4 linked regions of the Homo sapiens genome follow. The protein of the gene in region 3 purifies or fractionates together with the protein of the main gene of each other region. This does not show direct contact. Each region holds a gene or a part of one and is shown on either strand. Other genes may lie near its edges.

What was found.
Region 1: the proteins of INAVA (region 3) and ARHGEF7 purify together in Homo sapiens (co-immunoprecipitation; 3 studies listed by BioGRID and IntAct, with this or other methods). This does not show direct contact.
Region 2: the proteins of INAVA (region 3) and DCTN5 purify together in Homo sapiens (affinity purification with mass spectrometry; 2 studies listed by BioGRID and IntAct, with this or other methods). This does not show direct contact.
Region 4: the proteins of INAVA (region 3) and SGF29 purify together in Homo sapiens (co-immunoprecipitation; 4 studies listed by BioGRID and IntAct, with this or other methods). This does not show direct contact.

What each region holds. Positions count from the first base shown.
Region 1 is NC_000013.11:111,300,131-111,304,255, forward strand, and holds part of ARHGEF7 (rho guanine nucleotide exchange factor 7), read left to right. Parts: intron 1-617; coding exon 618-717; intron 718-1,347; coding exon 1,348-1,402; intron 1,403-2,860; coding exon 2,861-2,983; 3' UTR 2,984-4,125. UniProt on the Homo sapiens protein: Acts as a RAC1 guanine nucleotide exchange factor (GEF) and can induce membrane ruffling. Functions in cell migration, attachment and cell spreading. Promotes targeting of RAC1 to focal adhesions. May function as a positive regulator of apoptosis.
Region 2 is NC_000016.10:23,658,287-23,662,950, forward strand, and holds part of DCTN5 (dynactin subunit 5), read left to right. Parts: intron 1-220; coding exon 221-339; intron 340-2,883; coding exon 2,884-2,995; intron 2,996-4,664. UniProt on the Homo sapiens protein: Part of the dynactin complex that activates the molecular motor dynein for ultra-processive transport along microtubules.
Region 3 is NC_000001.11:200,900,550-200,905,766, reverse strand, and holds part of INAVA (innate immunity activator protein), read right to left. Parts: intron 4,831-5,217; coding exon 4,608-4,830; intron 1-4,607. UniProt on the Homo sapiens protein: Expressed in peripheral macrophages and intestinal myeloid-derived cells, is required for optimal PRR (pattern recognition receptor)-induced signaling, cytokine secretion, and bacterial clearance.
Region 4 is NC_000016.10:28,588,241-28,592,904, reverse strand, and holds the end of SGF29 (SAGA-associated factor 29), read right to left. Parts: intron 3,806-4,664; coding exon 3,741-3,805; intron 2,810-3,740; coding exon 2,680-2,809; intron 2,610-2,679; coding exon 2,463-2,609; intron 2,275-2,462; coding exon 2,239-2,274; exon of another isoform or gene 2,234-2,238; intron 2,133-2,233; coding exon 1,970-2,132; intron 1,865-1,969; coding exon of another isoform or gene 1,853-1,864; exon of another isoform or gene 1,316-1,852; coding exon 1,199-1,315; 3' UTR 1,115-1,198; downstream 1-1,114. Other genes in the region: SULT1A2 (sulfotransferase 1A2), read left to right, coding at 462-642, 765-877. UniProt on the Homo sapiens protein: Chromatin reader component of some histone acetyltransferase (HAT) SAGA-type complexes like the TFTC-HAT, ATAC or STAGA complexes.

The DNA.
Region 1 (4,125 bases), on a different chromosome or scaffold from region 3:
GCTCTTGTGTAGGTGTTGGTTAAATGACAGAAATGTTCTGACATTGTGAGCAGTTTGCTTTCATTTAGAAAAATGTTTATATTTTAGGAAATATAAAGTTTTCATAAAGGACCAAATAATGTTATTTTTTCTAAACCATGTGCTATGATGCTGTAATATCTTGATTATTAAATGTTGCTGTAGAGTAAAATGTTTTTATTGCCAGATCTTTGATGTATAAACACTCACTGTATATGTTCTGATTGGTCTCATATGTCTTTGCTGAAACTCTTGGAATAATGGCTCAAAATGGGATGAATATCCAGAGCAGTACAGTCACAACCTTTAACTTCCTCCCTGTTGAAAATGCTGGGGTTTCAACAATCCGTAATTCCGATTTGAAAAGGGCTACAGTTTCCTTCCCTCTCTGGCTTTGGTCATGAGGAGGCCTGGGCTCGGTAGACAGAGGTGAAGAGAACTGGTAAAAGATGCCCTCCTCTAGCTTGCCTGGATGAACGTTTTTAAATGCATAATTGCTAGAACTTAATATTTAAGTGACATGGTATAGTCAAGTTGTTTTTCTTCATTCTGCCATGGTATTCGCCTGAGGTTTATTTATTATTTTTTCATGATCCTAGGTTCACGCAAAGAATCTGCTCCACAAGTTTTGCTTCCAGAAGAAGAGAAAATTATAGTGGAAGAAACTAAAAGTAATGGTCAGACAGTGATAGAAGAAAAGTAAGATGTCTTCCGGTATTCTAAAGCAGATGTTTGACCTCTGCGGTGGGGTAGTAGAGTCCAGACAACTCCCTGAGGGCGGGGGTATGGCTTCAGAAGCTTCACTTTTTTTTTTTTTGAGACGGAGTGTCACTCTTGTCACCCAGGCTGGAGTGCAATGGTGCGATCTCAGCTCACTGCAACCTCCACCTTCCGGGTTCAAGCGGTTCTCCTGCCTCAGCCTCCCGAGTAGCTGGGATTACAGGCCTGTGCCACCACGCCTGGCTAATTTTTGTATTTTTAGTAGAAACGAGTTTTCACCCTGTTGGCCAGGCTGGTCTCAAACTCCTGACCTCAGGTGATCTGCCCGCCTCGGCCTCCCAAAATGCTGGGATTACAGGTGTGAGCCACTGTGCCTGGCCAGAGCTTCACTTTTAAAATGTCTTCATAGGCTGAAGTTGCCCTTGACTAGGCTTGAACCTGCCATGCACAGAGGTTGGCAGTTTTTAGTTGTGAATGTAGACAGTACATGGGTAAGGCAGAGCAGCTCCGTGTCCTCCTCTCAGCATCGTAGTGTCTCCTGGTAAGTTTTCGTGTGTCCTCTCCATGCCTCACCTTGTTCATGTGTGTGTGTTCTGTTTCCTGTTTCAGGAGTCTTGTGGATACCGTATATGCATTAAAGGATGAAGTTCAAGAATTAAGACAGGTACGTCATAATCCATCTTTAAATCTTTTTTTTCTTTTCAAATGGGAGAAAAGAAGAAAATTACATTAAAAATAAGCTGGCTGGGTACGGTGGCTCACACCTATAATCCCAGCACTTTAGAAGGCCGAGGTGGACAGATCACCTGAGGTCAGGAGTTCAAGACCAACCTCACCAACATGGCAAAAACCCATCTCTACTGAAAATACGAAAATTAGCTGGGCATAGCGGCAGGTGCCTGTAACCCAGCTACTTGGGAGGCTGAGGCAGGAGAATTGCTTGAACCTAGGAGGCGGAGGTTGCTGTGAGCCGAGATTGTGCCACTGCACTCCAGTCTGAGCCACAGAGCAAGACTCCGTCTCAAATAAAAATAAAAAGCTGATTGTCCATAAGCAAAAAACTAAAAGGAGGTCATGTCTTTGAGAAGTCCAGCAGATAAAATAATTGGTTGTCTCTAAAGTGACTTGTTTAAACTCTTTTTTTTTTCTTAACAATACTGATTTTGATGTCATAAAACATCGCAAATTCTGTTGGAAGAATAATTTAAAATATCGAAAGTTCTGTCTGGTGACAAATCCTGCGAGGCGCCCCTGAGATTAGCCTCTGCCACTGCATGGTCCTTGGCTCCCGAAGCCAGGTTAGCGAGCCAGAAGTGGCGACTAACCAAGGGTGTTCTGGGTATTGCACGGAATGTGAGTATGAGCAGCTTTGGTCCTCTGCCCAGCTAGGCGAGGGAAGGTTGGGGTGTTCATTGCACGGAATGTGAGTACGAGCGGCTTTGGTCCTCTGCCCAGCTAGGTGAGGGAAGGTTGGGGTGTTCTTTTGGCCGAGGAACAGCCTGAGAAGAGTTGTGGTCTGGGATAGAGAGCTGAGAGCAGGTTGCTGTGTGGAACTGGACATGTGCTGTCATTCTAAGCAGTGTCCGCAGGTCTTCCAGGTACACCTTTGCCTGGCTGGCAGGCTTCCATGTTCACGCTTTGCCCCTACCGGCAGCAGGCATCTGTTTGTGCATGCCTCCTACGTCCGAGACATGCCTGGGTTCAGCTGCACAGAGCAGGTGCTCGCCCACTTGCTCCTGCACCTGTCAGTGGCTGTTACTTCCAGTCCTTTCTGTAACTCTGGAAGGTGGTTATAAATGGACAAAAAGGCTGGATAGGAGCTGTCTCGTCCGCAGTTTCCAGCTATTTTCTTACGGTATGTTCTATAGAGATTCATTCATGGACTTAATAAGAGCCATTAGGACCATTTCCATCCCGGGAACAGCAGCACAGTCAGGAGCACCGCTGCCACCCTGTCCAGGTGTTTGACCTTCGTGGATCCCCACGACCTCAGAGCCCATAGGCAGCTCACGTGGGATTTCATGAATCGAGGCCTTAGCTCCTCAAGGATACACATTTGGGGAAAGGAAGCCCTACGCGATGCCAAAGATAGTGAACACCCTGTGGTCTGCTTAATTTACAGGACAACAAAAAGATGAAGAAATCTCTAGAGGAAGAACAGAGAGCCCGCAAAGACCTGGAGAAGCTGGTGAGGAAAGTCCTGAAGAACATGAATGATCCTGCCTGGGATGAGACCAATCTATAAGGGATGTCCTCAGTTCTTTCTGTTGAAGACCAGTTCTGAGGTGAAGCTGGGCACCCCTGACCCAAGTCGGGGTGCACTCAGGACCACAGGGCAGGGCTGGGTGGGGCGCCACCTTGCTCTCTGTATATAGAAAAGCTGGAGCTTATTCTGCGAATGGAGACGATCAAACCATGACTGATGAATCCAGACAGGAGGGATTGACTCTGAGGACCTGAGCTACATCAATCCACTCTGTGAACATCTCAGTTACCTCATTCTGCAATAAGTTCAGTGACTGACTAAAAGTCTTGTTTTTCCAGACTTTGAATTGAATATATAAATATTATATATACATGTTTCTTGTAAATATCCCATTTTGAATGCATACCTGTGGTGGTTCTGTCCGGGCTAATCCCCATGCTAGAATGTCCTTTCCAGCTACGTGAATAAGAAGTCCCATGCCCGCATCCACCGGAAGCAGAAGCCTGGTGGATGCCTGGTTCGTTCCGCAGCACCAGGGCCTCCACCGTGCTGTGGCAGCACCCCCCATGTCGGTATTTCTAAATAACCTTATTTATACCTGCAGAGATACACTTCAGTCCCATTCAGAAGTCTTCTCTTAAAGCAGCATTACAGTCCCAGACCTGCGGGTTTCTGAGGGCAACTTGCTGGCTGACAGACTCAGTCTTGACCTCAAGGAAGGCCCATACGGCACTGCCGCATCCACCTAGAGGTGTTTGCTCTTGTCCGCTGTCTGAGTACTGTGATTCTCAGATGAGTTTGCTGCGTTTTGGGAGGACACAGACGGTTCTGTATAGGCTAGTTCAGTAACAACAAAATACACTGTTTTGTCTTCCCTCAAAGAGAGATCTTACTAGAACCTGTAAATAGAATGTATTATTTATTATAAGTCACTGCAGCTGATGAAAACAGATGGAGGCCATGCTGCAGGCTGATACTGATGGGTGGAGTTTTGTCATCAGGCCAGCCTCATCCCGAGGTCTCCTCCACCATTGGCCGTAGCCAGCAGGCTTCAGTGCTCACCGAAAGTAAAATCCCCTCCTTCAGCAAGAATAAAGCAATATACACCTTAGGTTCCACTAAGTAACATAGGCATAAGCAGGGAACGTTTCCCCCACTGTGTTCCAGTGCAGAGGAGACGA
Region 2 (4,664 bases), on a different chromosome or scaffold from region 3:
GGCAAAGCTTGTGATGTACTAGGAACATCACTAACTGCAGTCACTGTCATGAGGGCAGTTCTCTTTTTACCTTACAATTTATTCCTTTTGGCGGAACATTTGAAACATTCTGTCAGAGTGGATTGTAACATAACTCAGAATCAGTATCTCGTTATCTACTCTTTTTTTGTTACGTCTTAGGCTATGTTGCTAATTTTTTAAAATTTGCTTCGTCTTACAGACCATTGTGATGAATGACTGTATTATCCGAGGGGATCTGGCAAATGTAAGAGTTGGACGTCATTGTGTTGTGAAAAGTCGTAGTGTCATAAGGCCACCATTCAAGAAGTTCAGCAAAGGGTATGTAATTTAATTACTTTGTTCAAGTCTTGGGCAAGAAGCTGCCACTGGTGGTGTGGTCCATGTGTTGAGTTGTGGTATAATGACTAGGTCTGTCCTGTTTGAAGCACTGAGTAAGAGTTCACCATAATGAACACAACTCTGCTGGTGGTTGTCTCAGTCTGGTTGATGATTGGTTGCTACAAACAGAATCCGCTTACACACTGGCAAAAGCAAAGGATTTCTGATCAAACAGACTGGCGTATATAATGGAACCTAAGAGGAGGAAAAGGAGCAAGCCAGGCCTCACAAGGGACCGGAACCTGGAATTGGACAGCTAGCCGGAATCAAGACTGTTTTGTCTACCTATCCCTCTCTGTATCTGAGACTGTATTTTTTCTTCTATACTGCCCTTCTCTCTGCATTTCTACTTGCCTTTTCTCTCTCACAGATACCTGCCCCATTTGTTCATGGAGCCTACCTTGCTGACTCAGCCTCTAATTTATATCATTTCTCCATTTAGGCTTCCAGCAGACACCAACTAGAGATCTTATGTGTTACTTCCAAACTCTTGAGAGAGAGAATCTGATTGACTCATCTTAAGTATCCCTGATCTGAACGACTTTGACCCAAAGGGCAGAGTCAAGTCAGGTCCACTGATCCTTCAGTGGGAATAAAGACTGTCCAAGAAAGGCCAGGGACAGAGCAGGCAAACTGACCACCATAGCTGATAATGGTGCTAAAGTATTCTCTTTGCCTCTTTGCTTCTCTCCTCCTTGACTAATTGCCCTCCTGGCACCCATCTGCATTTCATCCAATAAGTCAGCAAGCATTTATTGAGCACCTTCCTCATGCCTGCAGCTGGGTTGTAAGCTGAGAATATATAAAGATAGATAAAATAAAATTCCTGCCTCAAGGTTCCCAAAGTCTAGTTGTAGAAGCAATTAGCATAATCAGATAGCGACATATGACAGCTACTATATGATGTGATACACCTGTCACAGAGGTATGACCATGGTTAGGAAGGAACAGAGAAGGGAGCAATTAACTCAAACTAATGATAATACCCAGAAGTATATCATGCAGAAATAATCCCACATTTCCAATAATGATGTTGGATTCCAGGCTTTCCATGACATACAAGAACTGGATCGGAGAATCATTATAAAACATTCACATGATTAGCTTTGAAGGCTACTAGGGGAAAACCAGAAAACCTCCTGGTACCCTATTATGGTTTTATACAGTGTGACTGATACACTACTAGAAATGTTGATTAACAGCATTGTTGGGTTGGATATGGCACAGGAAAAGCACCAAGAGTGAACAAGGGGTTTATTGCTGAATGAAGGGATGTGTAAATAGGAATAGTACATGTGAGAAATGCTGAAAATATGAAAGTGTAAATAGCAAAACATGAATAGAAGCTAAATGTGGATTTTTTTCTACCTGCATGTCATACCAGAACCAGATAATACTATCGAACTTGGAATCTTAAATTTAAAATTAAAGAACTGTCAGTACTGCTACAGACTGTGATGAGATCAGGGAATGCATTGCTGCACAAGAGGTACAGACCAAAAATACTAGTGGTTAAGGAAGATTTAAACAAATTATAGGTTCGTAGAGGACAGGTATCATCTCTGAAAAAATATTCTGGACAGAATAGAACAGAATTGGAATTCTTCTATACTGCCCTTCTCTCTGCATTTCTACTTCCCTTTTCTCTAGTGAGCATCTAGCACTTTATATTCATTCCAGTCCAAATATTTTACATCCCAAGGTATAGAAATTACATATAAATGTGATCACAGAACCACTGTCAGTGACATTTGAGGAACCCTAGAGAACGGGATGGGAATGATGTCAGATATCTGGAGAAAGCCTGCTGACTCCTACTCAAAGTCAATTAAGTTTTTCCTAAATCCATGGACTAGGTAAGGTCTCCTTGTTATATATGCTCATAACTTGATATTGTGTTTCTGTAGCCCTTATCACAGTTGTCACTACTTACTATTTAATCTCATTTCTTCTCTTGATTGCAAGCTGCTCGTGGACAGTGTTCTCTCTCTTTTGTCATTATTATAGCCCTAATTTCTAGCATTGAGTCTGGCACATAGTAGTCACTCACTGAAGTCTGTGAATGAATAAATTTTTAGAATGCTGAATGTGGAAATTATAACTCATGAGCCTACTGTCAATCCCCTGGAACATTATAGGGCAGGTTACTAAAAATGTGATCTGTGAGCATTTTCAAAGGAAGTGGGAATGAACAAACGTTCATTGATTTTTATTTGGTACCTGCTCTTTTAGCTTTGAAGATCTTGCCCCTCCTGCCTTGGTTTTTCCTTTCATATTTCTTTGGTGTACTATTGCAATTTTGAACTAGTAATCATATTCATTTTCTTCAATATTGTATAATTTTTCTAGCCTGAGGTTTCTTTCCTTGCTGGGAACAGTCTTGCTAAGATGATAAAGTTCAAATTATGATCTGTAGTTCTATAAACCTTGACCCAAAGTACATCATCTTGACCTTTCTGTGTTCATCTTCTTTTCCTCTTCTAGTGTTGCATTCTTTCCTTTACATATTGGAGACCATGTCTTTATTGAGGAAGATTGTGTGGTCAACGCAGCACAGATTGGTTCCTATGTTCATGTTGGGAAGAACTGTGTGATTGTGAGTATGATGACTTGGCTGGCAAAGCAGCTTCACTTTCCCTTCAGCTCCCATCCCTCACTTCGGTGGGACCCTGTTTCTGTGACTAAGCAGGGTAGCAGTGGTTTCCAGTCTTCCCAGAGTTGGATTTTTCTTGACAGATATGGAATTTTTTCAGCTGGGTGCGGTGGCTCATGCCTGTAATCCCAGCTTTTTGGGAGGTTGAAGTGGGCAGATCACTTGAGGTCAGGAGTTTGAGACCAGTCTGGCCAACATGGCAAAACCCTGTCTCTACAAAAATACAAAAATTAGCTGGGCATGGTGGCGCATGCCTGTAGTCCCAGCTACTCGGGAGGCTGAGGCAGGAAAATCACTTGAACCCAGGAGGCGGAGGTTGCAATGAGCCAAGATTGCACCACTGCTTTCCAGTCTGGGCAACAAAACGAGACACTGTCTTATAAATAAATAAATAAATAAATAAATAAATAAATAAAAAGATTTGGAATATTTTCTAGACATTAATACGGGCAAGCGTTTATCAAGTCTCCTCTATATGATGTTAAACTCTTTCCTTTGATGATTTCATTTAATCCTTACAACCATTCAGATGTGTTAGGTGTTATCCCTATTTGCAGATGAGAAGACTGAGGACCTTAAATATTAAGGGATTTGGGGCCAGGTGTGGTGACTGTAGCCTATAATCCCAGCACTTTGCGAGGCCAAGGCAGGAGGATCCCTTGAGCCCAGGAGTTCAAGACCAGCCTGGGCAACAAAGCAAGACCCTTTCTCTTAAAAAAAAAAAAAACCCAAAAGTTAAGGGATTTGATAGGGCTAGAAAGCAGTAGACCTGGGATTTAAACCCAGGCAATATGATTATTAGCCATGCTGCTATATGGCCTACTTATTGCCTTACTTCACGGAGCTTACAGTCTAATGGGAGTAAGGAAATCTGAAGGGTGAGTTGAAACTGGGGGAAGACAGGCATTTCAGGAAAGAGATTCACATGCGTAAGGAAGGGTTCAAGTCATCAAAGGGCATTTACATGTAATTCAGGGTGCAAGCGGGCCCCTTGCTCAGCAGAATCTGTAGGACCCTGGTCCATTGGAGCCTAGGAATAGGTTGATTTAACCCAACCAAGGCTTAACAAGGTTGGATTTCCTGTGATTTCTTAGATGATGAGCTTGATTTCAGTTGGGATTTATGAGAACCATGTTTAGGGAAAGTGTTTTCTGCATTTTAGATTTGTACTCCAGACTAGATTCTAGGAAAAGCCAAGACTCTGTTTCTTTAATGACCATTCCCGTTAATATGGAGCCAGCTCTCTGCCCTGGATAAGACTCAGACCCTGAAATATCAAAAAACTTGCAGAAACCAAACAGTTCACATTCCAGGAGCTATGAGGGTACAGCAAAGGTGGACAGAAAGTCTTTGGGACAAGGGGAAAGTTAGTAAAGTTCATCTCTCCCCTCACCCTAATTGCTTGACAAAAGCTAGCCTTCCAGCTGGGGGTTTCTGATATTTTCCTTAGCAAAGTGAAGATATCACCCCAGTAGCCTAGTCATATAACCCTGTCGTTTATCCTCAGAGCGAAATGTCTGAAAGGTTGAATCCAAATTCTATTCCCAGTGCTTAGGAAATTCTAATCCTATTGTCAGGTGCTCTTGTTTTTATGCCACTTTTTAATACATCA
Region 3 (5,217 bases):
AATCCAGTTCAATAGCTGCTTTTGTAAATAAATGTTTATTGGAACACGGCTATGAATTTGTTTATGTAATGTCTGGCTGTTTTAGCACTGAAGTAGCAGAGTTGAACAGTTGTGATAAAGACCAAAGAGCCTACAAAGACTAAAATATGTACTGTCTGGCTCTTTATGGAAAAGTTTGTTAACCTTTGCTCCACAAAGGTTTAACCCATCTTTTTAAAGATGGGTTGTTACAATGTTGCCTAGGCTGGAGTGCAGTGGCCCGATCACAGCTCACTGCAGCCTTGACCTCCTGAGCTCAATCAATCTCCCACCTCAGACTCCTGAGTAGCTGGGACTATAGGTGTCCACAACCATGCCTATCCAATTTTTTTATTTTAGTTATTTGTAGAGACAGGGTCTCCCTGTGTGGTCCAGGCAGGTCTCATACTCCTGGGCCCAAGAGATCCTCCTGCCTTGGCCTCCCAAAGTGCTGGGATTACAAGCTTGAGCCAACATGCTCAGCCTGCTCCGCAATTTAATGAAAAAATCTTTACCCAGAGCAGGCAGTAGATTTCTAGGACATACGGTACCAGGAGCTGGGCTTGACTCCTGAGTAGCCAGCCAGCCCATGCTTTGCTTGGCTCACAAGTAGCCTTTGCTTTAGGGTTCAATTAAAGAGACCCCCTCTTACTGAATTCTGGTCTCCTGCCTTTGATCTTTTATAAAAACCTTAGGAATAAAGATTTTCATTGGGCCAGGCACACCTATAATCTTAGTTACTCCAGAGGCTGAGGCAGGAGGTTTGCTTAAGACCAGGAGTTTGAGACCAGCCTGGGCAATATAGCAAGATCCCATCTCTAAAATAGTTTTTTTGTTTTGTTTTGTTTTAATTTGCTGGGTGTGGTGGCACATGACTGTAGTCCCAGCTACTAGAGGCTGAGGAAGGAAGATCACTTGAGCCCAGGAGTTCAAGGCTGCAGTGAGGTATGATCACACTACTGCACTCCAGCCTGAGCAACAGAACAAGACCCTGTCTCTAAAAAGATTGGAAAAAAAAAAAAAAAGATTCAGGTTTCTGAGAGCTGCTCACTATCTCAGCAACTGTCCCAACCCTGCCCTAGCTCAGCGTTCCCCTGCCCCGCAGCAGCATCGCAGGACACCCCAGACAGAGGGGTAACGGTGGAGATTTTACTCACAAATGCTGAGCTTCCCCCAAGGCTATGCTGTCCAACACAGTTGCCACTAGCCGCATGTGGCTATTTTCATTAAAACTAAATAAAGTCAGTTCCTCAGTCACACTAGGCACAGTTCAAATGCTCCATAGCCACATGCAGCGAGTGGCTACTGTATTGGACAGCACAGATACAGAACACTTCCACCATCTCAGAAATGCTATGAGCGGCCAGGCGCAGTGGCTCACGCCTGTAATCCCACCACTTGGGAGGCCAAGGCGGGAGGATCCCTTGAGGTCAGGAGTTCGAGACTAGCTTGGACAATTTGGTGAAACCCCATCTCTACTAAAAATACAAAAATTAGCTGGGCGTGGCAGCACGCATCTGCAGTCCCAGCTACTCAGGAGGCTGAGGCAGGAGAATCGCTTAAACCCGGTAGGTGGAGGTTGCAGTGAGCTGAGATGGCTCCACTGCACTCCAGCCTGGATGAGAGAGCAAGACTCCGTCTCAAAAAAAAAAAAAAAATGTTATGAGGATGTGGCTAATGGCTGGTGTTGTTGATCAACAGATGCATCCAGAGTGCCTATTACATTGCACAGGTGGGTGCTGGGTGGCCCTCATGCGGTTCACTCTAGTAAATGAGCTCAACACCTGACTGCTCCCTGCCACTGCAAAGTATGGCTGATGACTCTCACCTAGCAGTTACTTTCCCAAACTAAATTACCCTTGTATGGAGCCCAAGGGGGCAGGGTGGTTTTTTATTTCGGTTTTTGGGTTGTTTGCTTTTTTCCCTTTTTTTTTTTTTTTTTTTTGAGACAGAGTTTCGCTCTTGTCACCAGGCTGGAGTGCAATGGTGCAATCTCGGCTCACCGCAACCTCCGCCTCCTGGGTTCAAGTGATTATCCTGCCTTAGCCTCCCGAGTAGCTGGGATTACAGGCATGCGCCACCATGCCTGGCTAATTTTGTATTTTTAGTAGAGATGGGGTTTCTCCATGTTGGTCAGACTGGTCTTGAACTCCCGACCTCAAGTGATCCACCCGCCTCGGCCTCCCAAAGTGCTGGGATTACAGGTGTGAGCCACTGCACCTGGCCTCCTGTTTTTTTGTTTTGTTTTGTTTTTTGTTTTTGAGACAAAGTCTCACTCTGTTGCCAGGCTGGAGTGCAGTGGCACGATCTCGGCTCCCTTGATCCTGGGCTCCACCTCCCAGGTTCAAGGGATTCTCCTGGCTCAGCCTCCCGAGTAGCTGGGACTACAGACATGCACCACCATGTCTGGCTAATTTTTGTATTTTTAGTAGAGATGGGGTTTCACTATGTTGGCCAGGCTGGTCTTGAACTCCTAACCTCATGATCCGCCCACCTTGGCTTCCAAAAGTATTGGGATTACAGGCATGAGCCACAGTGTCCGGCCTTCCCTTTTTAATTCAAAACACCTCAGCTACTAATAATTCTGCTTTACTTCCTCCTTTCTAGGAGGGCTCGGCTGGGCAGAGGAGCCACAAAACAGAAATTACTTGTCTAGAACTGATCCCTTCTGTGCTCTCACAACAGGACTTTAGATCCCAGGGCCTGAAGTTGGCCAGTGGGATCTTGATTCCTGATGTGGGAAAGTCAGCAACTACACCAGTTGTCTCCTCTCCACAGCTCTGTCTTCACCTGTACTGAGGGCTCCAAGGTTTCAGAACCTCATCCTCCTGCCTTCCACAGAGCCCCAGGCCAGTCCTGGCCTGCTCCCGACTCCCAACAAGAAGCATTATGGGTCACAATGGCAGCATCAGGGTGACACTCCCCTGCCACCCATCATGGGCAGAAGCTCCCAGCAATGGCAGCCCCGGTGGGCAGGGGAGGCTGCTGAGCAGTGTGAGGCTGGACCGGGGAGCAGGAGGCGCTGCAACCAACGGGCATATCTCACCACCCTGACCTCTCCCTGCAGGCACAGAGCAAGTTGGCCCTTAGGGGCTTCCATGTCCAATTCAGCAGCTACCTTTCAAGGTTGCTGTCAAGTCCTGGGATCCCTGTTGAGAGTGGAGTAAGGTTGTAGAACTTGTCTTCCATTAGAGCCTCAGAGACTGGGAGTGTTGTTCTGCGGCCAAGCCAGAACCACTGGAACCGGACAGAGGTCTGGCCATTTTCCCTGGGTCAGCCCCACTGTCTTCTGAGTTTACTGGGTTAACTGTCACATGGAGGCACCTCCTCCTTTATCACCTACTCTTGGCTGCGGGAGGTGACCTGGGTGGTGTCTGGTCATGCACTTTCTACCCTAAATTAAAAGCCATGGATAGGAGCAGGGACTTCTGAGACCTGTGCTGAGATAACTCCCTGCCTGAGGCATAGGCTGCAGGGCACAGGGACTAGCAAGGGCTTTCCAGCTTCCCCATGACTGCTCCCAGGCTGAGGAGTAGTCTTGGCAAAAAGCCAACACGATATGCAGGGATGGGAGCCTGAGAATGTGAATGAAGGCCGAGACCTCTGAATCCAATTCTGGATTTTTTTTTGCAGGGCCACGGCCTCATTCCCTCCCGGTTCCCTCTGAGGCAGCCAGGGAGGTCTGGGTCCCATGTGAGAGACGGGGGGCAGAGCTGAGTCATGGGCCTGCTGCGGTGGGGTTTGGAATGGAGAGATGCAAGTCCTGACCTGACAGGCTGGCCTTGGGTCAGGACAAAGGAAAACAGTCACACCTAAGGGCTCAGAACCACCTGTTGGAAGCTAACCTGTGGTGGACACACTGATGTGATGTGGCAGCACCTGGGCATCAACAACTCACTAGGTGCCCCCACGGCCACTAGTCTCTGGGCCAAGGAGCTCAGGGATTGAACTACAGACACAAGGAGGGCAGAGAACAGACATGGAAGGATCCCACCCTTGACCAGGGTGGTTGTAGATACTTAAGGGGCTGTGGGGTGTGGCACCAGTCCTGCTGGATTTCAACCTGAACATCTCCTAAGTAGCTGTGGGCCCCTGAAACAATTCAGTGATCAGTAACACATAGCAATCGTCAAACCCTTTGCTGCCTAACTCAGGCCAGGGGACTACACATCAACTCAGAGCCTTGGGCTCACGGGAGCCTCACACTACCCTGACCCAGAGATGCCATCACCCTGTGGGCCTGGAGGGCAGCGGGGCCAGCCTGGGCTACCCAGTTGAATACACCTTGGATTCAGCTCAGGGTCAGCTGAGAAATATCTCTGTGTAGGAAGTCTCTTGAAGGTAGTGTATTTTGAGGAGGATACGGAAGGAGAGAGTAGGGTGTTTTCTAAGGAGACGGAGAAGAAGACCTCACAGGATGGGGAAGCCTTGCTGGAGTTGGAGAGAATCAGGATGGGGTGGAGCTGAACCCAAGAATCAGCTTTACCCAGCTGGAGCCAAATGCAAAGGCAGTGGCACGGGGCTGTGCGCCCACCATCCCTCAAAAGCTCATTTAAGGAGCATGGCCCCCCTCAGGGCAGCCGGCTCACCTCGGCCCAGGGGGAGAGCAGCAGCCGGAGGTGGCTCGCTATTGCGCCGCCGCTCGACCAGGCAGCGCTGGAGCTCCTGCAGCTTCTTCTCCTCCTGCAGCATGGAGTGCTTCCGCTGCCGCCGAGCCTGCCTGCTGAGGTTCTCCTCCAGGCACAGCCGACGGGCTGCCTCTGTGATCTGCAGCTGCAGGGCCAGCTGGCGCTCCAGGCTGCTTAGGGGGTCCTGAGAGAGGGGGCAGGAGTGAGGCTAGAGAGAGGCAGGGAGATTGGGGGCCCAGAGGGTGGACAGCAGCCCTGACACAGTGCTCTAGGTCCCAGTCCTAAGCCCTGAGGACAGAAGAGAGGCAGACAGCAGCACCAATGGACGGACGTGGAGCAGAGGGTGAAGGAGTGGGAGGAGCCGAAAAGCAAACTTGTCAGCCTGAAAAGCTGGCATGGGCACCCACCCACCAGCCCACCTGCTGAACCGGGCAGGGTGGGAACCCAAGTGGGACACTTTCCCTCCTGACCCCAAAGGGTGGGGCAGGCTGGCCCATGGGAAACTGCTGCCATTGACGCCACAGGGGAAGGGCACCCAGGGCCTGACTGCCCCCACCTCCTCCTGAGAAAG
Region 4 (4,664 bases), on a different chromosome or scaffold from region 3:
GAGTAGCTGAGATTACAGATGCACACTACCATGCCTGGCTAATTTTTGTGTTGTGCCATGTTGGCCAGGTTGGTCTCCATCTCCTGAGCTCAGGTGATCCGCCTGCCTCAGCCTCCCAAAGTCTTGGGAATTACACGCCTGAACCACGGCCCCTTGCCACAGATCAGCTATCTATTCCAATTGCTTCTCCCTGCCAATGGTTATGCCACCCAGGGCCACAGGCACGGAAGAAGACCATCCCAGTCCTTACCCATAGGAGCCAAGCCCAGCTCATGATGGGATCACAGGGCAGACAGCAATTCATTTTGCCCCAGGGACTGGGGTCCCAGGGGTCGAGGAGCTGGCTCTATGGGTTTTGAAGTGGAAGTGGCCAGTTCCCCTCTGAGGTTAGAGAAGTGGACCCCTTTTATTTTCCTGAATCAGCAATCCAAGCCTCCACTGAGGAGCCCTCTGCTGCTCAGAACCCCAAAAGGGAGATTCAAAAGATCCTGGAGTTTGTGGGGCGCTCCCTGCCAGAGGAGACTGTGGACCTCATGGTTGAGCACACGTCGTTCAAGGAGATGAAGAAGAACCCTATGACCAACTACACCACCGTCCGCCGGGAGTTCATGGACCACAGCATCTCCCCCTTCATGAGGAAAGGTAGGTGCCGGCCAGCACGGGGGTTTGGAGCAGGTGGGAGCAGCAGCTGGAGCCTCCCCATAGGCACTCGGGGCCTCCCCTGGGATGAGACTCCAGCTTTGCTCCCTGCCTTCCTCCCCCAGGCATGGCTGGGGACTGGAAGACCACCTTCACCGTGGCGCAGAATGAGCGCTTCGATGCGGACTATGCGAAGAAGATGGCAGGCTGCAGCCTCAGCTTCCGCTCTGAGCTGTGAGAGGGGTTCCTGGAGTCACTGCAGAGGGAGTGTGCGAATCAAGCCTGACCAAGAGGCTCCAGAATAAAGTATGATTTGTGTTCAATGCAGAGTCTCTATTCCAAGCCAAGAGAAACCCTGAGCTGAAAGAGTGATCGCCCACTGGGGCCAAATACGGCCACCTCCCCGCTCCAGCTCCTCAACTTGCCCTGTTTGGAGAGGGGAGAGGGTCTGGAGAAGTAAAACCCAGGAGACGAGTAGAGGGGGAATGTGTTTAATCCCAGCACGTCCTCTGCTGTCCTGCCCTGTGTCGTTGGGGGATGGCGAGTCTGCCAGGCGGCATCACTTTTTCTTGGGTTCCTTACAAGCCACCACGTATCTCTGAGCCACATTGAGGGGAGGGGAATAGCCATCTGCATAGGAGGTGTCTTCAAACAGGACCGAGTAGTCATCCTGGGGCTGTGGGGCAGGCAGACAGGAGGGGCTGCTCAGAGACCCCCAGGCCAGGACAGGCACCCCCTTCCCCCAGCCTAGACCACAGGAGGCTCTGGGCCGTGGACTCTCAGCCACTCCTAACATCCTTCACTCTGGGGTCAAGAAGTCTTGGCCCAGTCCCTGCTGCTACAGAGCTCTTTTCTCAGTGGCTGGAGACCCAAGGCAGGGAATAGGCAGGGAGGAGTAGGGGTGCTGACTCCCTTCCTAGTGGGGTCATAGCTGGAGGGTCTGCTGCCTTTCAAGGACTCTTTGTTGAGAGGACTGAGGGCAACCCAGAGGGTGGCAGGCAGGGATCCTGGCCTCAGGTGGCTTGTGTCCCATGTCACCAAGAGCACAAGGCGGTAGGAGCCCAGGGCTCAGGGCAGGAGCTTCCCATCTCGGAGCTGGTTCTCCTGGGGCTGGAAGCCACTGACTCGGGGCTTGCCAAGGCTGCCAGGGCTGGCAAAGGGATGGTGGCCTTTGGGGCTGGAGTGGAAGAGGGAGGGCAGCTGGTGGGTCCTGTCAGCTTGGAGCCTGTGAGATGAGGACAAAGGGAAGGAGTGGGGAGAGGACCCCTCGTCTGTCTGATCAGCCTGTTCCTGACATCACCCATGGCCTCTCCCCTGGAGGCTGCTTTACCCGCTGTGGGGGCGCATGGATCAGGGCGCGGTAGAAGCAGGTAGTCTGGGGATACAGGGCCAGCACGAGCTGCTCCTTCTGGAACAAGGCCTCAGGGTCCGTCTCCGGGTTGGCCTTCCACTGGGGCAGCGGGATGACACGGCGCCGGCTCAGGGTGTGTCTCCTGGGGGAAGAGGGGCTTATATCAACCTGTGGCCGGGTGGGGATGCTCCTTCTCAGCTGTTAGGCTGCCCCCAGGCTCCATGCCCTGCCCTGGCCTGGACACTCACTCTTTGCCTTCTTCATCGATGTCATCTACCTCATACCTGCAGACAAAAGGAGGAAAAGGCTGGATGCAGCCAGGGGCGCAGTACCTGTTGGGGAGTGAGGATGGGGGAGGACCTGGTGCTCCCTGCACAACCAGCCTCTGGGGAGCACCCTCTGCAGAGCTTTTCTCCCGTAGCCCAGGCAAGTTCGGTGACCAGAGAGCAGCCCCAGGGTTGGTGTCACTCACTTGTTGGTGGCATGGCTGTAACTGACCACCTCGGCCAGGATCCACTGCTCGTCCCCATCCACGGCCTTCACCCGGGCAGCCACCTTGTCTCCAGGTCTGGCCACGTAGTCTCCTGAGGCAGGGATGGCCCCACAGAGGGGTGGGGGCCTGTGAGTGGAACAAAGGGTCAGTCCCAGCCCCTGGGCACCAGCCCCTCCCTCGCAGCTGCTGCCCTCACTTGTCACCAGGCTTCCCGATCCACAGGGGCAGGGTCATGGCCGACTGCTGCAGCAGGGTCATCAGCACCCCTCTGCGCATGGTCTTCCGGGGTGGCTCCGAGTCATTGTAGAGACCGGCAATCTTGGCCGCTGTGGGAAGGAAGGGAGGCCTGAGGCCCCAGGGATAGGTGCCGGCCTTGACCCCCGAGCATGCTGCACTGAGCTGTTGAAGGAGCACCTGGGAGCCCCCAGTTCCCGAGTGAGCCCGAGGGCCCAGCAGGACTGTGACCCCATCGGCCATGTGTCAGCACCTATAGGGGCTGCTGGGTTTAACTACAGTTGGGTGAGATGGCAGCACAGCGGGGATCCAGGGGGAGGAACCAGAAGAAAGAAAGCGGGTTCCAAGGTGCTGTTCAGGCTGTGTTTGCTGATCTGAATGCTGGTTACAGAAGTGTGTTCAGTTAGTGACTATTTCATTGAACTCTGCACTTATGTGTACTTTTCTTCTATTAATATACATTGTAATTCAACAGAAAGTTAAAAAAACCAAAAAAAAAATTAAATGTGCACCTTCAACCTCCTCAGGCACAGCTGGACACCCCACTTGACTTCACACAGAACCAGCATGGCTGTGTGGGGACACTGACATGCCAAGATTCTGCCCACCATGGGATTGTTGGGAGGGCAGACAGGTAGGAGAGCCTAATGCAGGCTGAGGGGGTCTGGAAGGCTGGCTTTACGACACACAGCGTGTGGCTCTGCAGAAACCAGCCAGGGCAACAGATGGGCATGGGCCATGGCAGAGGAGGGGGCGACTGGCCCAGGCCCCAGAAGGGGCAGGAGATGAGGGGCCAGGGCGGGATGATCTCTGGCTGCTGAGGGAGAACTGGGAAACCCCTGCCTCTGGGCACTGGGAATGACCTCCTGTCCCTTCTCAGTGGTAGAGCCAGTCTGCCAGAGCCTCCATGGGAGGATGCCAGCAGGTGGTGGCCACAGGCCCCCACAGGAGGGTGACTGCTGCCCGCAGGGCCTCTCCTCTTGTCCTAGCAAAGGACCTCCCAGCATGTTCTCTCCCACTCACCAATCCGCCTCTCTTCCAACAGAGACTTGATTTCCGCGATCTTGTCCAGAGCTTTCCGAAGGATGCTGAGGGCGGGGAGAAGGGAGAAAGAGGGTTTGGTTAACGTACATAGCATAGACTTCTCTTCCATTTTTTCTGTTTTGGGTCAAGCTACATTGCCCAGGCTGGTCCCGGACTCCAGAGGTTCTCACAGTAGCCTCCTGCGCAGGTGGAATGACAGGTGTGTGCAGGTTCCTGTTCTGGTCAAGGTGGGCTGGGTTATTCAGACCAACCTCATGGTGAAACTAGAAATCTGCCCGGGTGTGGTGGTTCACGCCTGTAATCCCAGCACTTTGGGAGGCCGAGGAGTGTGGATCACCTGAGGTCAGGAGTTCAAGACCAGCCTGACCAATATGGTGAAACCCCGTCTGTATTAAAAATACAAAACTTAGCCAGGTGTGGTGGCGAGCGTCTTTAACTGTAATCCCACCTACTTGGGAGGCTGAGGCAAGAGAATCGCTTGAACCTGGGAGGCAGAGGTTGCAGTGAACCGAGATCGCGTCATTGCACTCCAACCTGGGCAAAAAGAACGAAACTCCATTTCAAAAAAAAAAAGAAAACTGGAAATCTTCAGTATGTGTCTTTTAGTCTTAAGAACATAAAAAACAAGGTGGTAGAAAGCAGCATGCCAAAAACTAAGAGAACACAGGATCCCAGAGAGGAAAGGACACAGGCAAACTGCCTTCGGCAAACCCTGCAGAAAGGCTGCAGGAACCTCCTGAAATGAGGAGAGGGGGCCTCAGGTCTGCCCGAGGGTCACACAAAAGGAGGGGAGACTCTGGGGAGAGGTGCTGGCCCAGAGCAGAACTGGGTGGAAGGACCTCATCCTTTCTGAAAGGCTGAACCCAAAGACAGACCCCTGCATGGCCTTGAAGCCCCAGGAAG